Homo sapiens: one gene and its partners. The protein of the gene in region 1 interacts with the protein of each later gene in a pairwise test. Each region holds a gene or a part of one and is shown on either strand. Other genes may lie near its edges. The genes, in order: CFAP418, SMARCAD1, CAMK1D and RBFOX1.

The links.
Region 2: the proteins of CFAP418 (region 1) and SMARCAD1 interact in a two-hybrid assay, tested with the Homo sapiens proteins (one study listed by IntAct).
Region 3: the proteins of CFAP418 (region 1) and CAMK1D interact in a two-hybrid assay, tested with the Homo sapiens proteins (one study listed by IntAct).
Region 4: the proteins of CFAP418 (region 1) and RBFOX1 interact in a two-hybrid assay, tested with the Homo sapiens proteins (one study listed by IntAct).

What each region holds. Positions count from the first base shown.
Region 1 is NC_000008.11:95,245,182-95,252,209, reverse strand, and holds part of CFAP418 (cilia- and flagella-associated protein 418), read left to right. Parts: coding exon 1-22; intron 23-4,439; coding exon 4,440-4,593; 3' UTR 4,594-7,028. UniProt on the Homo sapiens protein: May be involved in photoreceptor outer segment disk morphogenesis.
Region 2 is NC_000004.12:94,245,858-94,252,885, forward strand, and holds part of SMARCAD1 (SWI/SNF-related matrix-associated actin-dependent regulator of chromatin subfamily A containing DEAD/H box 1), read left to right. Parts: exon of another isoform or gene 1-2,696; intron 2,697-3,796; coding exon 3,797-3,898; intron 3,899-4,804; exon of another isoform or gene 4,805-4,894; coding exon 4,895-4,976; intron 4,977-6,758; coding exon 6,759-7,028. UniProt on the Homo sapiens protein: DNA helicase that possesses intrinsic ATP-dependent nucleosome-remodeling activity and is both required for DNA repair and heterochromatin organization.
Region 3 is NC_000010.11:12,828,532-12,835,559, forward strand, and holds the end of CAMK1D (calcium/calmodulin-dependent protein kinase type 1D), read left to right. Parts: intron 1-237; coding exon 238-356; 3' UTR 357-7,014; downstream 7,015-7,028. UniProt on the Homo sapiens protein: Calcium/calmodulin-dependent protein kinase that operates in the calcium-triggered CaMKK-CaMK1 signaling cascade and, upon calcium influx, activates CREB-dependent gene transcription, regulates calcium-mediated granulocyte function and respiratory burst and promotes basal dendritic growth of hippocampal neurons.
Region 4 is NC_000016.10:7,513,009-7,520,036, forward strand, and holds part of RBFOX1 (RNA binding protein fox-1 homolog 1), read left to right. Parts: intron 1-5,138; coding exon 5,139-5,381; intron 5,382-7,028. UniProt on the Homo sapiens protein: RNA-binding protein that regulates alternative splicing events by binding to 5'-UGCAUGU-3' elements. Regulates alternative splicing of tissue-specific exons and of differentially spliced exons during erythropoiesis.

The DNA of each region.
Region 1 (7,028 bases):
CGTGTGATTATCTGTTTTTCAGGTATGTTGCTAAAGAACTTCACTCTGAAAAAAGTACCAAGTAGTTTATATTTCCTATTTTGATATATTCTCTCTGGGTGGATTCAGCCAGATCTTGTGGGCTTCACCTCTTCAGTATAGTCATGTGCTGCGTTATGATGCTTCAGTCAACGATGGACTGCATATATATATATACATGGTGGTTCCATAAGATTATGACGGAGTTGAAAAATTCCTATCACCTAGTGACATCATAGCCTTTGTAATATTATACTGCAATGCATTGCACATGTTTGTGGTGATGCTGGTATAAACAGTAACATGCTGTAGAGGTTTGTAGCCTTGGAACAGTAGCCTATACCATATAGCCTAGGTGTGTGGTAGGCTATACCATCTAGGTTTGTATAAATTCACTCTTTGATATTCCCACAATGATGGAATTGCCTAACAAAGCATAAGCAATGCATGACTGTGTTTCTGTCATCCATCTCCTTCTCTCCATCTGCCTGCTGTCAGCCTAGATAAGGACATGTTACTTCTGGACAAGAATACAGAAGTAACCTCCTCACTGGTTTTTCTGGCTACAATCTCTTCTCTCAGACCATCCTTCCCTTGTTCAGAATTAAAGCATAGCTCAGAGTATACCGTCCTCCTGCTCAACACCCTTCCACTTACAGAATAATGTCCAAATTCCTTAGCATGGCATTCATGACCCTCCATAATCCAGCTCCCATCCATCCATCATCCAGCTTTGTCTTCCCACAATGTATATTTCACCTTTGCAAGATTTTAGCTACATCAGAGTACTCAAGGCTCCCATTCCCTCTGACTTTGTACAACCTCTTTACCTCTTGGGATGCCTTCCCACCATTTTATCTACCTAAACCCTACCTGTCCTTCAGAGTATAATTCATCACATGTCTTCCATGATTCTTTCACCACTCTCTCAACTGGAAGAAAACTCTTCCCTTCCTGTGTATTCACGGTGCTTTGGACCTATTATATACTGTAATATAAAACTGAAGCTCTTAGGTTGGTGTATGACTACCTCCCTCCTTGTGGCTGAGATAATGTCTTGCTCATATTTATATAATTTGTACATTCTTATACACTTACAGAATACCTACTATCTTTAAGGTGTTACAAGTTATAAAAATATATTTGAACTTTACATTGACATTTTCAAATAAAAATTTAAAGCTAAAAATTAATACAGTGTAATATTGCAGCACTTTTCAATAGCATAAAGAAAAGGGTAAGAGACTTTCCCCTACGCCTTTTTTGGCAGCCATTCTTGGGTAAATCTATGAGTATACCCTAATTTAATAGTTTTTAAACTTTTTCACATCAAGAACCACTTTGCAAATCTTATGAAAGCTTTGAATGCCCCTCATACACATACAATTCAAATATAAAAATACATGGAAAAATTATAACTTGAAAAATTTTACAGTTTCCAACCCAAATAAAGCCTAATGTACTCCCAAAATCTGAGGTTAGGAACCCATACTTTTAGGCTTAGCCCACTTTTTACCCCATAAGTGGAAAAGTTGGCTTTTAATTACAGGTTGACTTTCCCTTTTCTGACTTTTCTAAACCCTCTGCTATTTACTGTCTACTAGTTAATCTAATAAGTGGTTAATAATCCCCATATGTCACCAAGATGAAGCATGAATTTTTATAAAACTATCATAGGATAATAAAATGCATGTAACATCAAGGCAGTGGTGAACACAGGCATAAAGTAAACTATGGATAACCTAGTCGGTACTTGAGGAACTTGCAGCATCTCAGAGTTATCAAGAACACCAGTTGGTTTACCCTAGATCTGTGGCAGCCTGGTTTAAAAAATATATGTACTTTTAGATAAAACAGTGACAACTAGAGGATTTATTATACTATTAAAAATAAACAAGTAGTCATTATTTAAATCAGTAGAAAATACTGTCTCAGTTCTCAAGACACTTAGGAATATGTTTGGGAGATAAGAGAATGGAACAGCTAAAGAATAAGGCGGTCTCCACCATTAGGATATAAATCACTGATAGATTTATTTTGTACAATATATTGGTGTTTACCAGTAGACATTATTCAGCACCTAGTCTATGACACTCTTAGATACTGGGCTCATAAGATGAGAGGAACCCAGGGGAAGGGAGACATGGGTGGGGACAAGCATGTGAGCAGCAAGGTCATAGAGACAATAGGGTCAAGAGCACTGATGGGAGGTGAGCCTTGGATAGGAAAAGGAAGACCTCTGTGACTGAGAGGAAGCCAGCAAGGTACTGATGTGTTCAGGGTGAGCTTGCCAGGAAATTGAAGGCTTTCATACCTGGCGACCTGGTTTTGAGAATGAAGATGTGATCTGCTGAAAATAAGGGAGTGGAGGAGGATGTGGAATAATCACTGAGGAAACCAGAAGTGGACAGTGACCAAAGACAAGTTAAATGTTACACAGTGGAATGCTGTGCAGTTGTTTTATTGTCCTATTTTACAGATGAGAGAAATAAATGTATCCTATCTTTGAGAAGTTTTAGAACTTTTTTTTTTTTTCTGAGCCAATCTTGCAAACCCTGTTACCCAGGCTAGAGTGCAGGACTGCAGTTTCAGCTCACTGCAACCTCCACTTCCCAGATTGAAAGGATCCTTCGGCCTCAGCCTCTCGAGCAGCTAGGAATACAGGTGCGCACTACCACATCCAGCTAATTTTGTAGAGATGGGGTCTCACCATGTTGCCCATGCTGGTCTCGAACTCCTGAGCTCAAGTGGTCCACCCACCTTGGCTCCCCAAAGTGCAGGGATTACAGGCATGACCCACCACACCCAGACAAGTTTTAGAACATTGTAAAAGAAGTGTCAGCTATACTTACTGACCACCTTGCCACAACAGCTGAAGAAAATGCTTTTATTTTTCTATTAAATCGTGTTTTCTTTAAGAATGGAATGATTTTTCCCTAAGCTTTTAAGATACGTGCATTTTAAAAACCATTTCAAATGTCATAATTAGATCCCTGCCTATTCATGATTCCTAATCCTAAAATCGCTAAGGATTCAGTCAAGTATCAAATGTTAAGTTTTCAAAATATTTTGCAGATCAAATAAAGGACATTTTTCCTCAACAACTTAGTTTTGGCGGGGTTTTTTTCTTTCTGTTAAAATTTAGATTATTCATTTCTTCCCTTAGCTAAGTCGTTTAGCTAGTCAGTCTGTTTCCTGAAGTCAGACAGTTGGCTTGGAAAATCTGTCAGGTTTTGTGAGGTTCTAACCTTCTAAATTGTGCCTGAATTTCGTACAGTTTAATACTGAATATGGTGCCCATTGACCACCAGAGGGCACTTTGTAGCCTGCCTTCTGTTGCAGTGATATCCACAAGCAATGGTTAGGTACCGTATCTCTTTTTCTGGTATTCATACTGTATTTCGTCCTTTCACTTTGTATTTTTTCATCTTTTTTAAAAATTTTTTCTACTTTTCTTTGCCATGGAATGTTTATATGAACTCATTACATGGATTATCATGAAATCATAATTGATGTTTTTATTAATTAAACTTCTGTAGTCTTTTTTATAATAGTATGAAATCCAGTGTTTATCATTTTTACGATGGCCCTACTTGTTGATTTAATTATTTCAACATTATTAATATTTATTTCAGGATAGACATTTTTGTTGCTGATAGTATGAATAAACAGATCATTGAAGCTAATGAAAATTTTCTATAGTTAATTCATCAGAAACCTATGATCTTTATGCCTCTAATGTTCTCTCAACTTGCCATATTACAGGCTTTTAAAATATGGCATAGGTGAGTATCTGAGGTAGGAAATGAACCACCATCCTTTCCACCCTATTTTCATATTATTTCATCTCTGATAGGGCGTTTGTAATTCTTCAGCCTTTAGGTTATTGTGTTCTTCAACATTCAATAAACTGGCCTAGAGGATTGCCATAAAAAGTACAGATTATCAAAGAAATACCATCAGAAAGAGAACACTGAAGCATATCTTCTAGTGTTAGTGTGAGGGGATCTAGGTTGTTTAGTGTTCAGATACGGGGAAGATAAGAAAATAGGCTGGGCACCATGGTTCATGCCTGCAATCTCAGCACTTTGGGAGGCTGAGGTGGATGGATCACTTGAGCCCAGGAGTTTGAGATCAACCTGGACAACATACTGAGACCTCATCTCTACAAAAAAAAATTTTTTAAGCCGGGCATAGTGGCACATGCCTGTGGTCTCAGCTACTTGGAAGGCTGAGGGGAAGCCTGGGAGGTCAAGGCTGCAGTGAGCCATGATTGTGCCACCGCAATCCAGCCTGAGTAACAATGAGACTCCTAAAAACAAAAAAAGAAAAGAAAAGAAAGCAATGACCTTTTTTTTTTTTTTTAATCATTAAGCACTGAACAAAGCCACTATGCTAAAACTTTCCTGTTTTACTAATAGGAACAACATGCCAGAATTTCACAAATTAAAAGCAAAGTTGATAAAGAAGAAAGGAACACGGGCATATGCCTGCCAGTGTAGCTGGAGAACTATTGAAGAAGTGACTGACCTTCAGACAGATCATCAGCTTCGCTGGGTTTGTGGTAAACATTAAGAATGCAGACTGCACATTCGGACAGATGCATCCATGAGAGTGGTCTCCATGAATCATCATCATGTTTAGACAATAGTCCCTAGCAATACCATTCCCTGTGGGAAAAGGCAGTGAATTTTATTGATACAACTACATACATTTTTGAAGACCAAATGGACTAAGGAAGATCATGTATTATAACACTTTGGAATTATTCCTGATACATGGATGTTTCACTTAGTAACAGGCATCTACATTCTTTACTAATCTGTCTTCTGTTTAATAGAGGTTTGATTATGGAGTTCCATACAAATATCTAGTTTTTCATTAGCAACTGCAATATTGATTGCTAATACGTTTAGCAAATCATTCCCCAACTTGTAGCAGTTAAAGTGGATAAAGCCGGCCAGGGCAAAGAGATCATTTAGGGGTGTCTACAACACTTCTTCCAGTCAGATCTTTTGTTGCCAAAGATCATAATTTGGACATGGCAGAAACCAGGTGATCAGTGGCTGACTGAAGGGTGTTCAGAAGTAGTTACAGGTATTTTGCAAAAACACTGCCTCATAGCTGATCTTACCTCATCAACTCAAAGCAATGTTATGCACAATATTAAATACATGTTACCAGTTTTAGCTTATTTTTCCCTCTTTTGTTCATTTAACTATCAAAAGTTATTTTCTATTTTGATTACCCAATAATATATAAAAAGAGTTTGATGCACCCAAAATCACAAAAATCCTAATACATACAGGTTATTGTTGGATTTTCCAAGTACTTTCTATCCTTTAATGCCTAAAACTCCATCAAGGGAAGTAAACAGCAAGTAATATAATTTTTCAGGCAGCCTGTGGACTTCTCTGGTAGGATCAGGTTGACATATCGTTTATTAGGTGAGTAAGTGAAAAGACAAGTAAAGCATAACTGAACCAACAGGTAACCTGTTGGGCTCCTTCCTGACATCACTGAGATCTGAGGAGCCCTACAATAGCAGCACATTCAGGAAATCAGGTCCCTCAAAATTTCTAGCTCCCAACCCCATTGAGAGATTTTGGGAGCTTTCCAATCTGCCACAAACTCCCTGCTACATATGTACTATATAGTTCAAATGTGTGATACAGAGCACCCTGAAAGGGAATAATTGAAACAAAGTTATAATCTTCTTAGTCTTATGCTAAATTTATTCCAGCCACCCTACTGAAGGGAGGAAGATCTGATCATTAGAATCCTTTTCCTAGCCATGACACATTTACATACTTGTAAAATTTATTGTAGTAAGTCTAGCATTGCAACAGAATAGATCTTATAATGGCCAATCCTCACACTTTTGTATTAAGGATATTATGACAGACTAAGCATGGTAGCTCACGCCTGTAATCCCAGCACTTTGGGAGGCTGAGGCAGGCAGATCAGCTGAGGTCAGGAGTTCAAGACCAGCCTGGCCAACATGATAAAACACCATCTCTACTAAAAATACAAAAATTAGCTGGGCGCGGTGGTGCATGCCTGTAATCCCAACTACTCGGGAGGCCGAGGCAGGAAAATTTATTGAACCTGGGAGGCAGAGGTTGTAGTGAGCCAAGGTCGCGCCACTGCGCTCCAGCCTGGACAACACAGTGAGACTCTGTCTCAAAAAAAAAAAAAAGACATTATGACAGATTTTATCTTTTAATAAAAATGTATTATATCCCTAAAGTTATATCTATATGTAATTGAGTCAGAAACCTAGGGGGATGTCGATTGAAGTCGACTGCTGGAAAAAAATAGCAGAGCAACAAGATCCACACATTTAGAACCTCATAGAATTTGACACATTATTCATAATGGTGCAATTCTTTCTTTTTTATTCCAGTAAGCAAATTTACTAAATCACTAATTTGAAAAAAAAAATTTTTTTTTTGAGATGGAGTGTCACTCTGTTGCCGGGCTGGAGTGCAGTGGCACGATCTCTGCTCACTGCAACCTCCGCCTCGCAGCTTCAAGTGATTGTCCTGCCTCAGCCTCCCCAGTAGCTGGGATTACAGGCACACACCACCACGCCCAGCTAATTTTTGTATTTTTAATAGAGACAGGGTTTCACCATGTTGGCCAGAATGATGTCGATCTCCTGAACTCGTGATCCGCCCGCCTCAGCCTCCCAAAGTAGCCTACATTGCCTCTACTTTGAAGGGACAAAGTTGTCCTGGTTTTTTTTTCCCTTTTATTATTTCATTATAACTATCCTAAAACTTACATACATTGCCTATGTTTGGCATTCCATAACATAATAATTATAATAATCCCCCAATGTCAGAAATGTATGTGTGAGTTCCCATGTTTATTGGCAATTTATAAGCTTTTTAATATTGTACTATTTTAAACTAAAATGTAGAAAGAATATTATGTTTATATACAGTCAGATAAATTATTAACTGTTGTAATTTAAGCTGAAAATGAAACTATTTTAGTATCAGTAT
Region 2 (7,028 bases), on another chromosome or scaffold:
TTTGGAAATATATGTGTCACAGCAAAACTGACTGTGGTCAGTAGAAGAGGACATGATGACCTTTCTTTAAAACTCTCTAAAACGATTTTCCCACTGGGGCTTGCCAAAGACTTCATACAACATCCTTACCTGCAACAGATTCTTGGAGAATCATTGCATCTGCTGGTCACGAAACCCAAGTGGCGGAGTACCTTGTATTGCACTCTGGACCTGGTACAGAGCCGTCTCTTAACCTGGGCCCCATTCATAACTGACATTCTTTTTTTTTTTTTTTTCTTTTGAGATGGAGTCTCGCACTGTTGTCTGGGCTGGAGTGCAATGGCATGATCCTGGCTCACCGCAACCTCCGCCTCCCGGGTTCAAGCAATTCTCCCACCTCAGCCTCCCGAGTAGCTGGGATTACAGGTGCCTGCCACCACGCCTGGCTAATTTTTTGTATTTTTAGTAGAAACGGTGTTTCACTGTGTTGGCCAGGCTGGTCTCAAACTCCTGACCTCGTGATCCACCCGCCTCAGCCTCCCAGAGTGCTGGGATTACAAGCGTGAGCCAGCGTGCCCAGCCATAACTGACAATCTTAAGAGGTATTTTATAAAATGAATCAAGCAGTACACACCCTAATGAAGTATATCTTGCCTCCAGTGTGCAGTGAGCTCCCAATGTCCAGTCTAAAGAGGCAGATAGGTGCGGCCTTTCTTTTTTCTTAAGAGTGGAGTTTGCAACATGCTCCAGACTACACTCCCACGAAAGTGGTGGGCCTCAGAGTGAGGATGGTTATTCCTTCACCCTGATATGTGGCATGTACGTATCTGACCAGTACCATTGAAAATACCCACTACCTGTATCAAGTCCAGTCAACATGATGTCAGTATAGTGGATCAAGTGATACTCTCTAGACTGTGCAAAACCATCTAAGTCCATGAGTACTGTATTATTTGAGAGAGCCAGGAAAGTTACTCTAACTCTGAAGACTGAAGGTATATCATTAAACCTGCCAAGATAAAAACGGATTGTTTCTGTTTGATCTAATTGGGAAAGGGGAAAAAGCAAGTACTTGATTGATAACTGCATAGCCATATTGATTTGCTCCAGCAAAAATACCACATCCTGTAAAGCAGCTGCAGCTGGAGTTTGATTGTTTATGATACTCTTAAATACTTGCAAGACTCATCTACTTTTTGTATAGGTCAAGGAGGCATCTTACATTGGGATGGGATGGTGGTGTCAATATCTGCAGTTCCTTTAGGACTGTAGTAATTGCTTATTGTTTTGATTGAGAGGGACAATTCTAGGGACTTGGATTTGGTGTTTCCTATAATAGTAGCCCATACATCATGGGTCAGGGAACTGATATAGTATGGGATTTCTGCCAGTGCCAAATATGTCTGTTCCAACTATGATTCTGGAGATGGAAAAATAAGCACTGGGTCGAATCATATCCCTTGGGCCCGCTGAGACAGATACAGTCCCAAATTTTATCAGCTAGCTTTTGTAAAGTGTCTGTGTAACCTCCTGGACCACATGAGTATATTCAGTCACCAGGGATAAGCAGAGCTGGCATAAGTGTGGGACCCAAGAGCAAACAACACATGATAGGCACACCATCTACTAAATATTTGATTCCGAAGAGCTGTTTACTGTTTTCCAGATATTTTATGTATTTTTTTATTGAGGTGAAATTCACATAGCATAAAATTAACCATTTTAGAGTGAACTATTTAATGCTATTTAGTACATTCACAGTGTTGTATACCATCATTCCTGTCTAGTTCCAAACGCTGTCATCACCTCGTAATAGCATGCTATACCCATTAAGCAGTTTCTCCCCATTCCCTCCTCCCCCTAACCCCTGGCAACCGCCAATCTGCCTTCAGTCTCTGGATTTACCTATTCTGAACATTTCATTTAGGTGGAATTATATAATATGTAACCTTTTATGTCTAGCCTCTTATTTTTTAATTTCAGAAAAATGTGTTTTATTTGTTTTTTCTTTTTTCAACTTTATGTTAGAATTGGGGTACATGTGCAAGTTTGTTACAAACGTATATTGCGTGATGCTGAAGTTTGAAGTATGAATGAATCTGTCACCCAGATAGTAAGGATAGTACTCCATAGGTAGTTTTCCTTAACTCTTCCCCCACATCCTCCCTCCGCCTTCTTGTGTTCCCCAGTGTCTGTTGTTCTCATTTTTATGAACACGTGTACCCAATGTTTAGCTCCCATTTATAAGTGGGAAATGTGGTATTTGATTTTTCTGATTCCACATTAGCTTGCTTAGGAAATGGTTTCCAGCTACATCTGTGTTGCTGCGAAGAACATGATTTTGTTCTTTTTTATTAGCCTCTTACATAGCATAATGCTTTCAGATATACTACAATGTTCATTCATGTTGTGGTGTGTATCAGTACTTCATTCTTTTTTATGACTTAGTGATATTCCATTTTATGTGTTTACCACAATTTGTCCATGACGCACATTTGATATATTAACAAATGAACAACTGAAGTTTAGTTTTCACTTATGTAGTGAAAAAGCAGTGGTCTAGAGTTAGATACTTGGATCTGTTCCCTCCTCAGCTGGTTGTTGTCCATCTGTGAGCTTTAAAATACTGTTCTTGGAATTTCAGTGTGCCTGGGCTGTAAAGGTGGCAGTATGAATTTTGAAGATTTTGAAATGGTTTCTCCAGATGGGTTTCACCAGTATGTCTTATTATTCCCCTGCTCAAAATCCTGTTGCTTCTTAAAAAAGACTAACCTTAGGCTTTATTCCATGTTAGCTCTGGTTTAATTCTTCATCCTTGTAACCTATTAACATTCTCTGCATTTGAGCCCAAGTAGACCACTTAGTATTATGAAACACATGCAATTTTCTTCTTTAGTCCAGATATCCATAGCATTTTATTGGTCTCTGTTTTATGAAATTTTATTTTACTCCATTGTGCAGAGGAGGTATCAGAATTTAGTTATTTCTATCTAAGGTACTGAAAGAGAAAAATAGCAATTCAGTTGTTGGATAATAAAGGAGGTTGAAGAAGAAGATTGTATTTTTCTCCATCTTGTGTGTATAGCATGTGGTGCAGTTCTAAGCAGAGTAGAAAAATGCTTTTTGATTGACTAAAATTTTTCCTATGCATGAACACAAGGAGTCTTTTCTTTTTGCTTAAATGTGGACTTTAACCAGTTTCTTCAAGTGAAGTTAAGTGACAGAGAAGAAGGAAAAGTGAGACTATGTATAGCCACAATTCTCATATTAATTAATCTGTTCGGTTTATACATTATTTAGTTCCACTTAAATTCCTTTTATCATTGTTTCAGTTTTATGTTGTGACTGAACAATTAATATTTAAGCCATTCTGTGAATCAAGAGTGAAGTAAAAGTAAACTCTTCTCAGAATTTGAAATTTATAGGTGGATATATAATAGTGAACATAGATGAGATATTTGTATCCTTTTAAAATTTACCGTTGTCTTGGAGAAGGCATCAGTATACTTGAATTATATTGAGTTAATTTGAGGATCATTCTAGTTTTTTAGGAGATTTATCTCATTTTAAGCACTGAGAATAAAGTTTGAGTTACCGGATATGCAATCAGGGTCTTTCAGTGATCTTAAGTCAGCAATATTTTTCATCCTTAAAGACATAAATATGTCAATGTTCACAGAAACAAAAAGAAACAGTTTGGATTCTTCTGACTGATGATGATAATTTTCAGATCAAGTCAAAATACAATGATAATTGCCTTAAGACCATTGTTATTGATATCTCTTAAATTGTTTTCTTTTTTTTTTCTCCCCATTAGGGAGAGGAATCAAATGAGTCTGCAGAATCTAGCAGTAATTGGGAAAAGCAGGAAAGTATTGTACTGAAATTGCAAAAGGAATTTCCCAATTTTGATAAACAGGTGAGTAGTCGTGTATGAAAATTTAATCAGTGTGTACTAAGTGTTTTTATTATAAAATAGTGTTAAGAGTTCAACCACATAAAAGCTTAGGGTGAGTTTTGTATTCTTCTAATTAAATGTTCTCCTTTTATCAATGTTATAAAGTATTTTCATACTGTTTATTTATGTTGTTTATTTACCTTGTTTACTATAGTATCTATACTGTATCCCTAAGTCATTAAAAAATAACCGTAATAAAAATTGTGAACTCATTTATAACATGTAAGTCATCTAGAAAGTCATCTGTAACCCTGCCCCCATCAAGTAACTGCTTAGTTTTTTTCATGTTCTCATTCTTGAAATTTCTTACAAGAATTTAAAAAGTATTCCATTTCAGTGTCTTAATATTTTATAAGCTTTCTACTACTTCCCAGATAGTGAGAATGTTTTCAGAGTCATTAAAAAAAAAGACTCATGCCACGCATCCTGTTGCTAAAAGGCCCTCTGTTTAATCCCATGATCATATATAGAAGCACATATTTGTTTAGCATTTAGAGTACATTTACACTTGCACTGATTTATTTGAGTATATATGTTCAGATAGTACATCTACTAAATTCTGATGAGCTGAATGCAAAATCTTGTTGCAATATTGGTTCTTTACCTTTGTTGAAACTACGTTTTGAAGTTAGCAGTTTGTAAAAGCCTAGCTGCATATTGAAATTTCATTTTTAATTGAGAAAACATTTCTTGATCCTCTAGTGTTCACAGTACTTCATAGTGAGCATTAGAAATGCAAAAAAATGTCAAGTTTTCTTTCCTTTGAAGACTATTGTGTATTTGTGGAGGTGAAATTACACAGAAAGCATTTGTAAAGCAGTGTAAAAACAAGTGCAAAATAATCAGATGTGAATTCTCTGTTTTCAGGTGATTAACTTATTTTTAAAAGAGCATAGACGTTTTCTGCAAGTTGCTAATTTGAGATTTTTAACAAAAAGATAAATGACTTATTTCTAGGAACTTAGAGAAGTACTCAAGGAACATGAATGGATGTACACAGAAGCTTTAGAATCTCTAAAAGTGTTTGCAGAAGACCAAGGTAATTATTCTGGGTCATAGAAAATACATACTTCTCATTATAGTCTGTATTTTAGTATATAAGAAAATGGTATATAAGAAAAGCTATTAGCTGTTAATCAGAGGGTGGGATTGCAAAAGATGTTGAAAGTAATGATGTAAAAACATTCTTTAACAACCAGTTTTTAAATGTTTTGACCTGCCTGTTCTTTATCATAGTGTAAAACAAAACAATAAATATCTTTTTCTATTTGTTCAGTCTTTCTTAATAGTTAAGGCTACTTTTAAATTGCCATGTTTTATTGAGTGTAAAATAACCTTTTTAACAACTGTCAGGATGGATCTTGTGATTGGTGATATCATGTCATTACTGTAATGTAGATGTCTTAGCCTATACTTGCACAGATATCAAAAGCACTAGCATCAAAAACTTAAGGGTATCATAGGCATGAACACATTTTGGAACACTCTTAATTCTAGGAACCAAATGATAGAGGAGAGGTGGTAAGGAAGAGTTGAGTCATACATGTTTAGTAACATACCTAAGGAAGAATCAAGTAGACTAGCTCTTCATAATTGCAAACCCAGCATGGTAGCTTTTGGTGTTTTGGTTTGGGTTTTTTTGTTTGTTTGTTTTTAATAAATTGTTTTAAAAGGCTATACTACCAATACTGTTGATGGCACAGAAAATGATATTCTGTGGCAAAAAGAAAGCCACCAAATATGAGTTTGAAAAATGAGTCAGAAGAGCCATGTTATGAATGTGAAAACATTTGAGGAATACTTTAGCCAATTCATTTTGCTTATTTTTTATAAATGCACAAAAATAAAGGTATGATAATCTGTGTAAGTCTAATAGCTTTCTGAGTAAGTAAAAATTTCTGAATAAAGTATTGTATTATAGATTGGTGCATGTTTTCTCACTGGTACATAAAATAATGGTGTTACCTTCATTCACAGGCATCTTAGAATTCTGTAAACTGATAATCAGTGATAAAGTAGTGGGGCTTTTTGATAATACTGTATTTGAATAATTTTTTTTATTTTTTATTTTTTTTGAGACGGAGTCTTGCTCTGTCGCCCAGGCTGGAGTGCAGTGGCACAGTCTCGGCTAACTGCAACCTCCACCTCCCAGGTTCAAGCGATTCTCCTGCCTCAGCCTTCTGAGTAGCTGGGATTACAGGCATGCACCACCATGCCTGGCTAATTTTTATATTTTTAGTAGAGACAGGGTTTCACCATGTTGGTCAGGCTGGTCTCGAACTCCTGACCTTGTGATCTGCCCGCGTCGGCCTCCCAAAGTGCTGGGATTACAGGCGTGAGCCACCATGCCCAGCCTATTTGAATAATTTTTTAAGTAACGATGCAACTTAGAATATTGAAGATAGTATTGGAAAATTATGGATAGTTGAAACATACACACTTTTTATTAGTAAGCTTTATAGTAGTGTAAGCATCATTCTGCTATATTCTTCAGTGTTGGCATAGTTGAGTGGGGCTGCTAGGAATATCTGAGACATCATACAGATACGCAGCTGCCATTTGTGTTCTCAGGACCTTTGTTAGAAAACAGAGATTTATATTTAATTCATTTTAAAAACAAGTTATCACCTGCTTTTGAAACAATTGTTTAACTTCAAATTCTACTTAAGTATTTTTAAAGTGTATCAAATTTAACAATAAATTGTCGTTGAATTCTTCTGTATTCAATAGGAATAGGTAAATGTTTTAAGTTTTTATTTGAAGTCTATCTTTATATTTATGTATTTCTAATTTAGTTACTGTTTTTGTCTTTTATATACAGATATGCAATATGTATCACAAAGTGAGGTTCCAAATGGAAAAGAAGTTTCTTCAAGAAGTCAAAATTACCCTAAAAATGCAACTAAAACAAAACTAAAACAGAAATTTTCAATGAAAGCACAAAATGGCTTTAACAAGAAACGTAAAAAAAATGTTTTTAATCCAAAGAGAGTTGTTGAAGACTCTGAATATGATTCAGGTTCTGATGTCGGTAGTTCACTAGATGAGGACTATAGTAGTGGTGAAGAAGTGATGGAGGATGGCTATAAAG
Region 3 (7,028 bases), on another chromosome or scaffold:
TCGGGAGGCTGAAGCACGAGAATCGCTTGAACCTGGCAGGCAGAGGTTGCAGTGACCCGAGATCGTGCCACTGCACTCCAGCCTGGTGAAAAGAGTGAAACTCCATCTCAAGAAAAAAAAAAAATTGGGCCCCCCCGCCCCCCACCATAAACCCAGCCCCTCTGACACCTGGCAGTGGGAAGCAGGGTGAGAATTTACCTCTGAAACTCTGAAGCCCACTTCTGCTGTTCCCTGCAGGTCTGGCACCTTCCACGCTCTGTAGTTTCATTTCTTCTTCGTCGGGGGTCTCAGGAGTTGGAGCCGAGCGGAGACCCAGGCCCACCACTGTGACGGCAGTGCACTCTGGAAGCAAGTGACTGGCCCTGGAGGTGGGGCCCGGGGTCGGGGCTGGGGAAGGGGAGCCCCAGGGTCGCCAGAGCCGCGAGCCACTCCAGCGAGACCCCACCTTGCATGGTGCCCCTTCCTGCATAGGACTGGAAGACCGAAGTTTTTTTATGGCCATATTTTCTACTGCAATTCTGAAGTGTTCATTTCTCACAAACTGTACTGACTCGAGGGGCGCTGATTTCATAGGATCTGGTGCTGTATATACGAATCTTGCAAAGCTCTAACTGAACGGACCTTCTTATTCCTCTCCCCTAACACCATCGTTTCCACTCTTCTCAGTGTAGGTAACCGTCTATGGTGTGTTTTTTCATTAATGACAAAAAAAAAAAGGTTTCAACTGGATTATTTAAATATTGGTAAATATTGTGCATTAGGGTTTGTTTTTCCTTTTAAGAAGTATGTCCTTTGTATCTCTAAGTTACATGACCTATATCTTTTCCTCTTTAATAGTAGTTTTATGTTAACCTTTAAGAGATTTGTTTTTCCTCAAAGGAGAATTTAAAGGTATTTTTTAAAATTCTAATAAGAGGATCAGCCGGGTGCAATGACTCATGCCTGTAATCCCAGCACGTTGGGAGGCCAAGTCGGGCGGATCACAAGGTCAGGAGATCAAGGCCATCCTGGCCAACATGGTGAAACCCCACGTCTACTAAAAATACAAAAAATTAGCCGGGCGTGGTGGCACACACCTGTAGTCCCGGCTACTCGGGAGGCTGAGGCAGGAGAATTGCTTGAACCCGGGAGACGGAGGTTGCAGTGAGCTGAGATCGTGCCACTGCACTCCAGCCTGGGTGACAGAGCAAGACTCTGTCTCAAAAAAAAAAAAAAAAATTCTAACAAGAGGATCATGAATCTGTCTCCAAGGCTAAGAGTGCCCTTCACCTCTACTCCTTCTGTTTCTCTCCCCTTCCCCAGGAGGAGGGGCCCCTCAGTTCTGCGAGGCTCTCTTCTCTGCGGGGGACTTTGGTAGAGAATCTGCACAGAGCCTTTGCTGGCAACCCATCCAGCAGAACCCACACCCACCAGAGACCCTAGAGGCCTCTTGCCATCAGCAACCAGAAATAAGCCTGCTCCCCCGAGACGCAGGGCTCAGCTTCACAGGCCAGACTTGCTGTGAGTGAGATGCCCACACTGCAGAGATGCAGGACCCTCCCTTGCAAAAGGAACCAGCTGCCATGTTGCTGAAAGTGGGCCCACACACAACCCTCATTTCTCACGAGAGCTAACAGATGAAAGCTCAGCTATGCAGTGTTAAAATTCATCTCTTTCTCTGTGGTTTTTAAAAAAATGCATTTCTAATCTTACACTTCACGTGGCCTCCAACACAAAGTTCTTTCTCCACATTTTTACCCTCTTCTCACATGAATGTTTTCCAAGGGAAGGAAGGGAGGGAAGCAGCCTTGGGAAAGGATCCATTTCTGGTGGTAAGGAGAGGGGGCCCTGCCAGGCTAATGGGACTTCAGCCACCACAGAGATGACCAAAGACCACCTCCGCCAGGCCCAGCCAGTGCTTGCAGCCCTCCCATTGGTCAGGGGAGTCTAAAATCAAAGATACATGGTGGTAGGGTCACCAAACGTCCCATTTGCCCGAGACTGAAGGATTTCTCAGGCTGTGGACATTTAATGCCAAAACCAGGAATATCCGGGGCAAAGCAGGCTGTGTTGTTCGCCTTTGTGGAGCCAGGCAGTGTGTGGCCCAGGGAAAGCTGCGTTTCATGGAGGCTTCCAGGAGGCTGCCCTGTAAAGCCAGGCAGGTGGCTTCAAGTGCCATTCCTGCAAGTGCCCCTGCTTCAGCTCTCAGGCCCATCCAATGCCTCGAGCCCACGGGGGTGTCCCGGCAGGTCTGCGTCATCACGACCCAGTAACGCTGCTGGCTGTGTCCTCATGCCCTCTTCCTCTGGCTGGCCAGTCATGGGAAGTCCTGTTGGTTGAGTCATCTTTGTCACTTCTACACCTTTGAGTATGTACAGGCTGAATGTTGAGTGATGCCCCCCCACCCTCTCAATAAACACACACACACACACACACACACACACACACACACACAATGTTATTAGGCACAGCAGCTCCATCCTGCTCCCTGAGAATGGCAGTGCAGGCACAGAGAAGAGCAGTTGGGAAGACAGGCAGCTGGTCTACCCTGTCCCCGCACACTTCACAGGCACTCCACTGCTTGGCAGGAATTCTGCATGGCATCTGCCACGCATGCTCACAGGGTGAAAAATCAAGCTGTCACTCTGCAAAATCTAAAAACCCTGGAAAGGTCTATAAGATGACATTAGACCCAGTTAAGAAGCAAGTGTCACCTGAGTTGGCCATGCAATGAATGAATATTATAAGCAGTATTGGAGAACTAGGCGGTTGCTTACTAAGAAGTGTCTTGGAAACATTCGAGTTCATACAGTGCATGACAAAGTAATAGAAGGCTGCAAGCGCTGAAAATGCACCCGAATCTGGTACCTAGGATGAGTACATGAATAGTGATGAATAGCCCTTTGTGCTGTGTGCTATATACAACCATTTGCATTCAGAAAGCAGCATTTGAAGCTGAGTTCCATTACTGGTGATTGAAGTATTTTCAGGAGCAGATACATGTGGTGCATGTTATATGCACTTAGTTTGAAAGTATCCCTCACCCAAAAAGTGCAGAACCTCTGAAAGGTGAGCCGTGGTGCAGGTGCCCCCCTCGCTGTTCGGGTCAGTTCTTGGCCATGCTTGGCCTGTCACACGCCGGGTCTCAACAACATCGTGCGAGGAGACAGTGACTGGTTTCAGCCCAAGAGTCAACTGTTGAGCATGACATCAGGAAGCCTGTACTGTCCTGATCCCACCAGGCTTGGGTTAATTTCCTATTGCTTCAGAGAAAGAGAGGCGCTCTTGTGCTTTTGAGAGAGCTCTCATGTTAAAAAGAGGTTGTCTTTGCACTGCGCTTGGTATGATTTGTTTTCTTATAAAACAGGAAGAGAACCTAGAATGTGCCTTTCGTGAAGGTCTGACAAATGGGGTCTCAGAGTCCTAGGACCCGCACCAAGGTCAGAGTCCACCTGTAGAGGCTGAGCATTTCTACATGCACCCAGGGTGCTGGGCTGAGGCTAAGGGTGGACGCGTAGACCCCATCACAGGCTTCCTTCCTGAGCCCAAGTCCCCCATTTGGTCACTATCCCTTCTCAGAGCAAGTGGATTCTCTTTTCCTCACTTGGAGTATTCAATGTTGAAGTAGTGGCCTGGAGTGGCCTTTCCCTCAGCTGCCTGTCTGGGCTCCCTGGCTTCCCGGATCTTCATCTCATACGTGAGGCAATAGGAGGAGTTTCTATTCATTGAGACAAACAGTGAGCGGGCACCAACAGGCCAGCAGCTTGGCCCTTTTCACAGAGGTGGCCTTGGAGTCTGGAGTCTGGGCAGCTGTCTGCCTCTCTACGGCTCTGCTTCCCAGCGGGCACACGGGTCCGGAGCCTCAGAATGAAGTGGTGCAGAGGCGCAGGGCACACCTAGGAGAAGCTCAATGACCACCAAAGCCCTTGAGGAGAGACGGGGTTTGCTGTGTTAGAGAAATGGCAACCCCCAGGACCATGCACGGCTCTGGCAGTGCACAGTGGCTGATTTTCACCAGTTCCTCCTACCCCTGCCTCTGTCGGAGACTAGAAAACATTCTACCCCTTCAGGTCTTCTTTTAAAAGAAAAGAGCTATGGCAAAGCGTGCCATACAAAGTTAAAAAAAGGAAGAGTGGCTTTGCGTTCTTGACCATGGCCACAATTCTGGTCACTTCTAGCATCTGACCTTGAGAACGGTGTAGAGTCTCTGAGCCACCGCTGGCCTTTGAGAGAGTCTCACTCTCCAGCTAGCTCTTTGTGTAGTGTCCAGGGCCCCGGCAGTCAGGATAGAGCGAGCAAAAGAAGATGGACAGTGGACAGGGCGCAGTGGCTCACGCCTGTAATCCCAGCGCTTTGGGAGAGCGAGGCGGGCAGATCACAAGGTCAAGAGATCAAGACCATTCTGGCCAACATGGTGAAACCCTGTTTCTACTAAAAATACAAAAATTAGCTGGGCATGGTGGTGCGTGCCTGTAATCCCAGCTACTCGGGAGGCTGAGGCAGGAGAATCGCTTGAACCCGGGAGGCAGAGGTTGCAGTGAGCCGAGATCGTGCCACTGCACTCCAGCCTGGGTGACAGAGCAAGACTCCGTCTCAAAAAAGATGGCCATGCTGGCCAAGGCTGGGCTCATAGGAAATATCTGTAGTAGGATGAAAGGAATCTGGCCTAGGGAGCCCCGGACTCGGTTTACCTACCCCGTACTCATCCCACTCATCTGTCTACCCTAGTGTCCATCATGCCCTGGATGAATCGTAGGTGGGAGGGACAGAAGCCGAGAACACCAGGCACACGGGGTGGGGGGAATGGGGGGAGCCCAGGTGATCCCCTTTGGAAAGTGGATTGATCCTCTCCCCTGTGGAATGACAGCTTAACCTGATTAACCCACTGGGGCTTGCTATTTTATGAGCATTTTTAAACAGAAAGGAAAGATGATATCCCAGTGCAGGTAGACTTTATTTTTGAAAGCATCGTGGCCCCTCACCTCTCCCTCTCCCCCAGAACCTTGGCCAGAATTGAGTCTTCGCGTTGGGGAGGCCACGCTGGAACCATTGCTCTAGGGCTGAAGGTGGAAGTAGGGCCACTGCCGCAGCTTCAGCCAGAGCCCTCGCTGCTTCGCAGAATTTAACAAGCACACGACTGGGATTCCTTTGGATATGAGAAAGGAAGGCAAGTGCGGGCAAAGGGAAGCTCCTCCCGTTTTTCATAAACAGAAGTAAGATGTCCTCTTTCCCAGGTTTGCACAATCACTTCTGGCAAATTAATTGAAGGTCCTTGAATTCAGCCAGTGCACGAAACCTTTGCATGTTCTTCTGAAACTGTACTTCTTCCCTATTCTGTCTACCCACACTCTGCGAACTTTGCCTTTTCCTTAAACACATTCCAGACCAAACACTGTTCAGTTTGTTAAAAAAAAAAAAAAAAAAAAAAGATGTATATACCTGTATGTGATCCACCACCCTTTTGAGGGGCACCTGGTCCTCGGTTGGGGCTGCAGGTGTGCCTGACATTTGCAAAAGATATTCCAGTCTTTCGATGTTCAGAATTGAAAATGTGGAGATAGAAAAGCTCAAACAGACTCCTAAAAGGAGGGTTTCTTTCCTGAAGACTCCAAGAAAATGAGTGTGCAGATGAGTTAGCTTGACAACCTCAACTCTGGGGAGCAGGCAGGCGGTCTGAGGAAGATAAGGGCCCACGCCCCACTCACCTGGCACCTGTTCGGTGGTCCCGGGGCATCATGGTCTGCAGCTCTGGGCCCCCAGCCCCACTGTGAAGTCAGTCCTGCATGCTGGCCGAGGCCCGGCCACCTCCCGATGCCTCCAGAGTCAGTGGGAAGGAGTCAGCCCTTCCCAGACTTCCCCGCCACCTCCAGCAGGAGCAGCTCAGTTTGTGGCTCTGGGAGCTCCGCTTTTGCAAACCCAAAAAGGCTGTGCATTTGGAAGCCAAACGCTCAGCATGCGGCTGCCGAGTCTGGTTTTGTGGACAAAGCAAACTGTGGAATGGCTTCTCGGTGTCTGTATAAAGGGACAAACGGTTGCATTCACCCTTTGTACTATAACACCGCTTCTGCATTCGCCATATCCGTTTTTTAACCTTTTTGTCTCCGGGGAACTTCTCATTCGATTATTATGTCTTCTGATGATTTGCCATGTTATTTTAAAGGTGATTTTATTTTCTTATGGACAGGAAAAAAGAAAATGAGGAGGAGTTGGTTTTACTCTTAGAGATAAGACTTCAGCAGGGGCTCAGAAACCCCAAACTCTAGTTAAATTGCTTCTCGGAGGAAAATCTTAATCTAGACAGATTCAGATTCCCAGGCTCTCCTGGAAGCCCTGCACTTCAGGGCACAGGGGCCCTGGGACGTGGTTGGCAGCCAGGCTGCGAGAGAGCTAAAAAGGAACAAGAACATCAGCTCGGATGTTTGTCTCTCAGCCCTGACACCTGCCACTCTCCTTCCCGGGGCACTTGGCCCTATCAGAGGGACATGAAATGCTGTCCGAATGGTGGCAGAAATGCAGCGACATTGCATGCAGCAGAGTCTTTGCTTCGAAAGATGGGGCGCCATGTTTCAGAGAACATTTATCTTAGTCCCACGTTCAGGTGAGAAGACCTCAAAGGTACCCTCTGTCCAGAATAAACATTGGAACAATCTCTCAATTGGCTTTTGTCACTACACATAATGTAATCTCCCTTCTTTCAGCTCCCCCAACAGTGAGCATGCTTCCCAAAAAATTACAACATCAAAACCAGGAATGTCCCCGCATCTACTATTACCAGGCTTGCAATTGGTTCAATTTTCCCATAAAAACATGTTTGTCCAAAAGAAGGGAAACTGTGAATTTATTCCATGCATGTAATAAACTCTGCAAGAAGTTTAACCCACATAGGTTTGCGGCACTGCAAAATTGTTCATGGGTCTATGTAGCAAATGATTCTCTGCCTTGACAATCATGTATACATATCAAGATTTCTATCATAATGATAATGAGATTGATGACTTCCTGTTTTCCTCCAATAAAGACAATTAATCACCTTCAGATGCTCATTTCCT
Region 4 (7,028 bases), on another chromosome or scaffold:
ATCCCAGCACTTTGGGAGGACAAGGCAGATGGATCACTTGAGGCCAGCAGTTCGGGACCAGCCTGGCCAACAGTAAAACGCCGTCTCTACTAAAAATACAAAAAATTAGCCAGTCATCATGGCGGGTGCCTGTAATCCTAGCTACTCAGGAGGCTGAGGCAGGAGAATCACTTGAACCTCGGAGGCGGAGGTTGCAGTGAGCCGAGAGCCTACCATTGCACTCCAGCTTGGGTAACAGGAGCAAAACTCTGTGTCAAAAAAATAAAAATAAAAATAATGAATGAATGAATGAATGAATGAAGTGAACTCCCCACCAGGTGATTCTCTTGCTAGATGAGAAATGCCTTGGTTTAACTCTTGGCTTCCCTAACAACTACCTGTGACTGTGGCCTCGAATAATTATTTCCCAGCTTTGGTCTGCAGCATCTTTGATGACAAGGTAAATTGAGATTAGAGATGCATTGCATGAAAAGTAGGGATTCTGGACCTTGGCACTATTAACATTTGGGGCGGGACAGTCTTTTGTGGTTCAAGGTAGTCGTATACTCTGTAAGATGTTTAGCAGCATTCCTGGCCTCCACCCACTAGATGGCAGTAGCACATCCTCCCTCATTTGTGACAAAACTGTCTCCAGTCATTGCCTAATGTCCTGTGGGGAGCAATCACACCTCTGTAAGAACTACCGGTATGAGGCGCCCAGCACAGTGCCTGCCACCTATTAGGTTTTCTTCTGAGGACCAGTGAGGAGAAGGGGCTGCTTTTCATGGAAGTCTGAGGCCATCATGAACCTTCTGCTCATAAGCCCACTTATGCAGATTTAAAGCCTGTGTGCCTGTGAGTTTACAGGTCAAAGATCTGCGGATGGAAAGTAAATTCCCCAAAAGATTCTGACCCACTGTTTTTGCACCATTTTCAATATTGCCAGTCTCCAAGTCTAGCTATCACCCCTCTTTGGTTTGGAGAGTATACAGGCCCTTTCTCTCTCTTTCTACTTCACTGCCTGCTTTATTTCCTGCCCAAACTACTTATGCAATAATGGCTTCTTAACTGGTGATCCCATATCTAATGACATTCTGCCACAGCTATTAGAAAACATTTTCCACAAAGGACCAGATGATAGATCATTCAGTCTTGGTGGGCTGGGCAGTCTCTGTCACAGCTATCCAACTCTGCCTTTGTAGTACAAAAGCGGCTACAGACAGTAAACAAATGAGCATGGGTGTGTTCCAATAAAACTTTATTTACAAAAACAAAATTTGGGCCAGGTTTGCCTCATGAGTCGTTTGCTAGGTCCTCTCTTCATCCCCCTACCCTATCTCCTGCTGCCAGACTAGGCTTTACAGAGCCCAGAGGTCATTTTTCCAGCACATATTCACTTGGCAAACATTTATAAATGTCCACTTTGCAGCTAGTATGCTGTTGGACCATGGAGATGGGACAGGGAATGTGGCACAGTGTCCTGTTTTCAGGGAGCTCACAGACAAATAATCAGGCTGTGGCAGTGCTTGGTGCTGTGTGAGCTGTGGCCACCAGCTGCAGTGGAGCAGAGGGGATGGGCAACTGACCAGGTTTCAGCATCAAGGAAAGCCTGCTGGAGGAGGGACTCTTGATGCGGACTGAAGGAAGAGTAAGGACTAGTTGGGCAAGGGGGTAGGTGAGGCTTTCCAAGCTGAGGGGCAGTAAATGTGAAGACTTGATGGGGTTGAGAGGATGGAGCTCTTCTCCCTTAACTGACCATAAGCTTCTGGAAGGCATGACCCTTCTCTCTTCAATACAGAGATAGCTCGAAGTCTACAAGGAGCCTTAGCTCTTTTGCAAGAACTAGTAGGAATGGGCCACTTTTCCTGAGCTTGCTCTGCACTGATGAAAAGCCCCAGGGTTATATATGTTCCTGGTGAAAGTATCTTCTGCTGGAGGTGGAGGAGGGAAACCTTTGTCTTCATATGATCATTGTCTGTACCACTGCTTATGTGGTTATTCTGTGCTTCCCTGTAAGAGTTTACACAAGTCTACCTTTCACTTCAGAGATGGGCCAGGTAGAAGGTTGGGGAGGCAGAAACAGATCTTTGAGCAGAAGCTGCCTCTGGCACAGTGAATTTCTCATCAGATGATTCCCAAGATCCCAACATTTCTGGGGCTTTTCATCACCCATAGAGAAGTGGCATCGCTATGAAATTTCTGTACAGAAGGATATGTTCCTTGAACAGCCCAGAAAAAGAAAAGATGCTAGTTTAGTTATAAAACAGCAGAAGTTTTTTTTTTTTTTTAATTAGTCAAGACCCTTTTGGTTGTAAGTAACAGAAAAAGTAGCTTAAAAAATGAGACAAAGGGTACAAAGTGTCAGTTTTGCAAGACAGATACATTCTGGAGATTTAAGTACAGCATGGAAACAAGAGTTAAAAATACTGTATTATATACTGGAAGTGTGCTAAGAGGATAGATCTTAAATTAAATCTCTCCACACACACATACACACACACACACACACACACACAAATGGAGATCATGTAGAAGTGATGGATATGCTAATTACCTGGAATGTGGTCACTTCACAATGTATACATATGTCAAAACATCAAGTTATACACCTTACATGTATAATTTTTATGTTAATGGTATCTTAGTAAAGCTGTTAAAATATGGGACATTTACTGACTTGTGTAACTACAACAAACAGGGATGGTGCTGACTGCGGGTAAAGCTGGATTCAACACTTCAAATGACGTCACTGGGACTCAGTAGAAACCTCTCTGTTCCTCAGTTTCTTCTCTTCATTTTCCTCTAGGTTGGCCTCACGTGTAGGGAGGTCCCCTTCAAGTGGCAGTTCGTTGTTGTTGTTGTTGTTGTTGTTGTTGAGACGGAATCTTGCTCTGTGGCCCAGGCTGGAGTGCAGTGGTGCACTCTCAGCTCACTGCAACTTCCACCTCCCACATTCAAGTGGTTCTCCTGCCTCAGTCTCCGGAGTAGCTAAGATTACAGGCATGTGCCACCATGCCCGGCTAATTTTTGTATTTTTAGTAGAGGCAGGGTTTCACCATGTTGCCCAGTCTGGTCTCGAACTCCTGACCTCAAGTGATCCACCCACCTTGGCCTCCCAAAGTGCTGGAATTACAGGCATGAGGCAACATGCCCACCCTAAGTGTCAGTTCTTGGCAGCTCCAGGCTTATGATGTTTTTACAGCTGCCCATCACCGTGGAAAGAGAACTTCTTCCCCAAAACTACAGCAAAATCCCAGGGTGACTGGGACTCAGTGGTGTGACTAGGGCTTAACGCACTAACGGACTCACTAGATAGATGTGCATGAACGCAAATCCATGGGACTATCTCAGTGGGACCATCTGATTGGCCAGGCTGATGTCCTATGGCTCATCTCGTAGCGACTGGGAGCTGGGTTCAACTGTATCTGCACCATACAGGCTGAAAGTGGGACTGTCCCCCAAAAGGAAACTGGGGCTTTGTTGAAGAAACAGGAGTGGAGACAGACCAGCAGTATCACTGCATGTCTTCTTTGGCTTCCCAAGGATGGACAAGGTTAACTGCTCATGGATAGCAACTCAGCCTCAACATAGGCACACCCTCCATGGCCCCAGTGCTATGGGAAAATGTTAGAAAGAGAAAGAAATGCTCGTGCCCTTTTGTTTCCAGTGGCACAGACATTTGGCGAAATTTGTCTGGAGGAGGGAAGAGCCTGATGGGAATGATTTACTTGTAAAATGTTTAAACTTATCCTAAGCTTAGTTCTCTTCCAAGTGTCATCTTTAACATTCTAATTAAGGTCCCTTCTAAACAAATGCACCAGCTCCGTGTGCTGCTCTGAGAACAAACTTTTTTTTTTTCCTCTCTTCTTTCTGTCATCATGTTTTTGCTGCACTCAAATTGCTTTAGAGAAAGAGGATTTCGGATGTTGGTGGCAAGTACTGAAGAGATAAGGAGAAATTCTGATATTTTTGCCCTAGTATCATTATATGAGGGCCAAAGTCACATCTAATTGACCACAGACAATAGGAGAGGCAGCTATTTGGTGTGCCTAATTGCTAAGTTTTTTTCCTCGCTCTGTCTTTCTGACTGTGTGATCCCATCTCCTGAGACCATGGAAAGTTTAGACCTTTGGGTTACAATTTCTTATGCCGTGTGTGTGTGTGTGTGTGTGTGTGTGTGTGTGTGTGTGTGTGTGTGTGTTGTGGTAGAACTGTGGAGGAGGAGGTAAAGAGAGAGAGCTGTTTCCTGAAATGGAAGCATTTGTATTCAGGTTTTTGTTGTGTGTGTTTTTAAAATTCTTCTGAGTTGGCTGTAATTGTCACACTGCCTGTTTTGCCTAGATCTGAAGAATGAATTGTTATATAATACTCTGTGCTCATAAAAAAATAAGGCAGGGAGGGAGAGGCATTGACTAATGAGACTGAGAGTTAAATCCAATATTTTTCAGAAATGCTTAAAATGGGGATGTCAGAGAGGACAGTCTTTGTCCAAATTAGGCCCTGAATTTGTATCAGCTGCTTCATTTTGGCACTGGGGACATCATACACGCATACACACACACAGACACACACACACACACACACACAACATAACACACAACCACACAGACACTGGGACCATTAAAAGGATACTCCCTATTCCCATTATGTGAGCCAAGTCACATAAAACTTTGATTAAATTCAAATGCTTACATAAATTGTCTCTCCTCTCAAGAACACACACGTTCAATTTAGTCTCTCTTGGCACTTTAAGTATCAAATCAAGGTTCTGCTGTCACTGCAGACAACTAAATGCTCACAGCTTCCAAAATGGGAATGAAATAAAAAGGATCTGCCAAAAAAAAAAAAAAATCAATCTAGTAAAGCCACAGACCCTCATGTCTTTGAATATTAGGCTGGGTGGCTTGGAAAAAGCGACTTTATCTTTATCTTTCCAAGCCTCGGTTTCTGCATCTGTAAAATGGGGAGAAGTGATGGTTACTGTTTCCTTATAGGGTCTGGTGAAGATGACCTGAGATTGGTCCATCTCAGGCTGGTGGCACCATGGTGACCCCTAGAAAGTACGCGGGGCACGATCGTCCTGGGATCTGGGAGGAAGGTTTCTGCATGGTGGCTCCTCATGACGTTCTCTCCCTCTCTGCACCTTTTTGATTTTTCAGGGTAATCAGGAAGCAGCCGCTGCCCCTGACACAATGGCTCAGCCTTACGCTTCGGCCCAGTTTGCTCCCCCGCAGAACGGTATCCCCGCGGAATACACGGCCCCTCATCCCCACCCCGCGCCAGAGTACACAGGCCAGACCACGGTTCCCGAGCACACATTAAACCTGTACCCTCCCGCCCAGACGCACTCCGAGCAGAGCCCGGCGGACACGAGCGCTCAGACCGTCTCTGGCACCGCCACAGTAAGTGGACGTGTTTGCTACGGGTGGGAGGTTATGGGGAGGCGCCCCCAGCCCTGGTAATGGCAGCGGGGGTGCACCCCCATCTACCCAGGGACTCTGGGAAACAGATCAGTCCCTAAGCCCACCCTCATCATACCAGCTTCCTGAAGTTTACCTCATTTCCATGCATTCATTCTTAGCGTTCATTTAAATCAACGGATTATTAATTAATTTCATTTATTTGTAAAGGGGCACATTTATCAATTTTCTATTCCTATAGTTTTGCCTTTCTAGAATGTCATCCCAATGAAATCTCATTTTTTTGGAAAAAAAAAATTTGATGTAAGATAATTTTTCTTCAAGTCTTACGGAGGCTGGGTGTGGTGGCTCATGCCTGTGATCCCAGCACTTTGGGAGGCCGAGATGGGAGAGTCGTTTGAAGACAGGAGTTCGAGAATAGCCTGGGCAACAAAGTGAGACCTCATCTCTACAAGAAATTTAAAATTTAGCTGAGTGTCATGGTGCATGCCTGTAGTCCCAGCTACTTGGGAGACTGAGGTGGGAGGATGGCTTGGGGCCAGGAGTTTGAGGCTGCAGTGAGCTAAGATTGCTCCACTGAACTCCAGCCTAGGTCACAGAGTGAAACTCTGTCTCTAAATAAACAAAAATAAAGTCTTTGTGGAATTATAATTTACATACCTTAAAATTAGTATATTTTTAGGTGTACAGTTCACTGATTTTTAGCATATTTACGGAGTTGTGCGATGATTGCCGGATGCATCTAATTTCGGAACATTTCCATCAGCCTAAATACAAATCTTGTGCCCCTTTGCAGCCACTCCTCATTCATACCTCAGAGCTCTGAACCTCGCTTCTTTACCTTAGCCTAATACATTTGAGATTCATCCAGGTTGCGGTGTTTGTCCCTGGTTTCTTCATTTTTATTGCTGGACCAAAGGGCAGGGGCTAGAAAGAGGCAGGGTGAGAGAATTTTGATGAATAAGGGAACTGTCCTGTATCTTAATGGTGACGGTTACATGACTTTATACGCCATAAAGAGTAAATTTTATTGCGTACAAATGATGAAATGGATTAGAAACAGGCATGTAAACAGAAACATTTTATCATCACTGTAAATGAAAACTGGTGTTTTGATCATTAATCAAATATAACTCTAAATGAAAATATTTATCATAAAATTAAATAATGTTCATTTGTGTGCCACCTAAAGTAATCATGCATACCACAAAACCTGTATGGAACATGCATTTGGGAACCTTTTTCTGCAGAATTCTTTAGAAGCTTGGGAACCCCAATCCTGTCGTCTGGAACATTTTTTGAGTGTAAGGCAATTCTGCCTCTTCGTCCTGTCCCAAGACCTCAGGAAAGCAAGTATTTGTGAAGGAGTTTATGGCTTTGAAGCATGATACATTTCCTGTGATAAAAGAAAACACTGACTAACTTTGCTACTTGCCACCTCATTCATTTGGAGGCTAGTTTTGACGTTTTGTTTTTGTTTTTGTTTTTGTTTTTTTGAGATGGGGTCTCACTCTGTTGCCCAGGCTGGAGTGCGGTGGCGCGATCTCGGCTCACTGCAAGCTCCACCTCCCAGGTTCACGCCATTCTCCTGCCTCAGTCTCCCGAGTAGCTGGGACTACAGGCACCCGC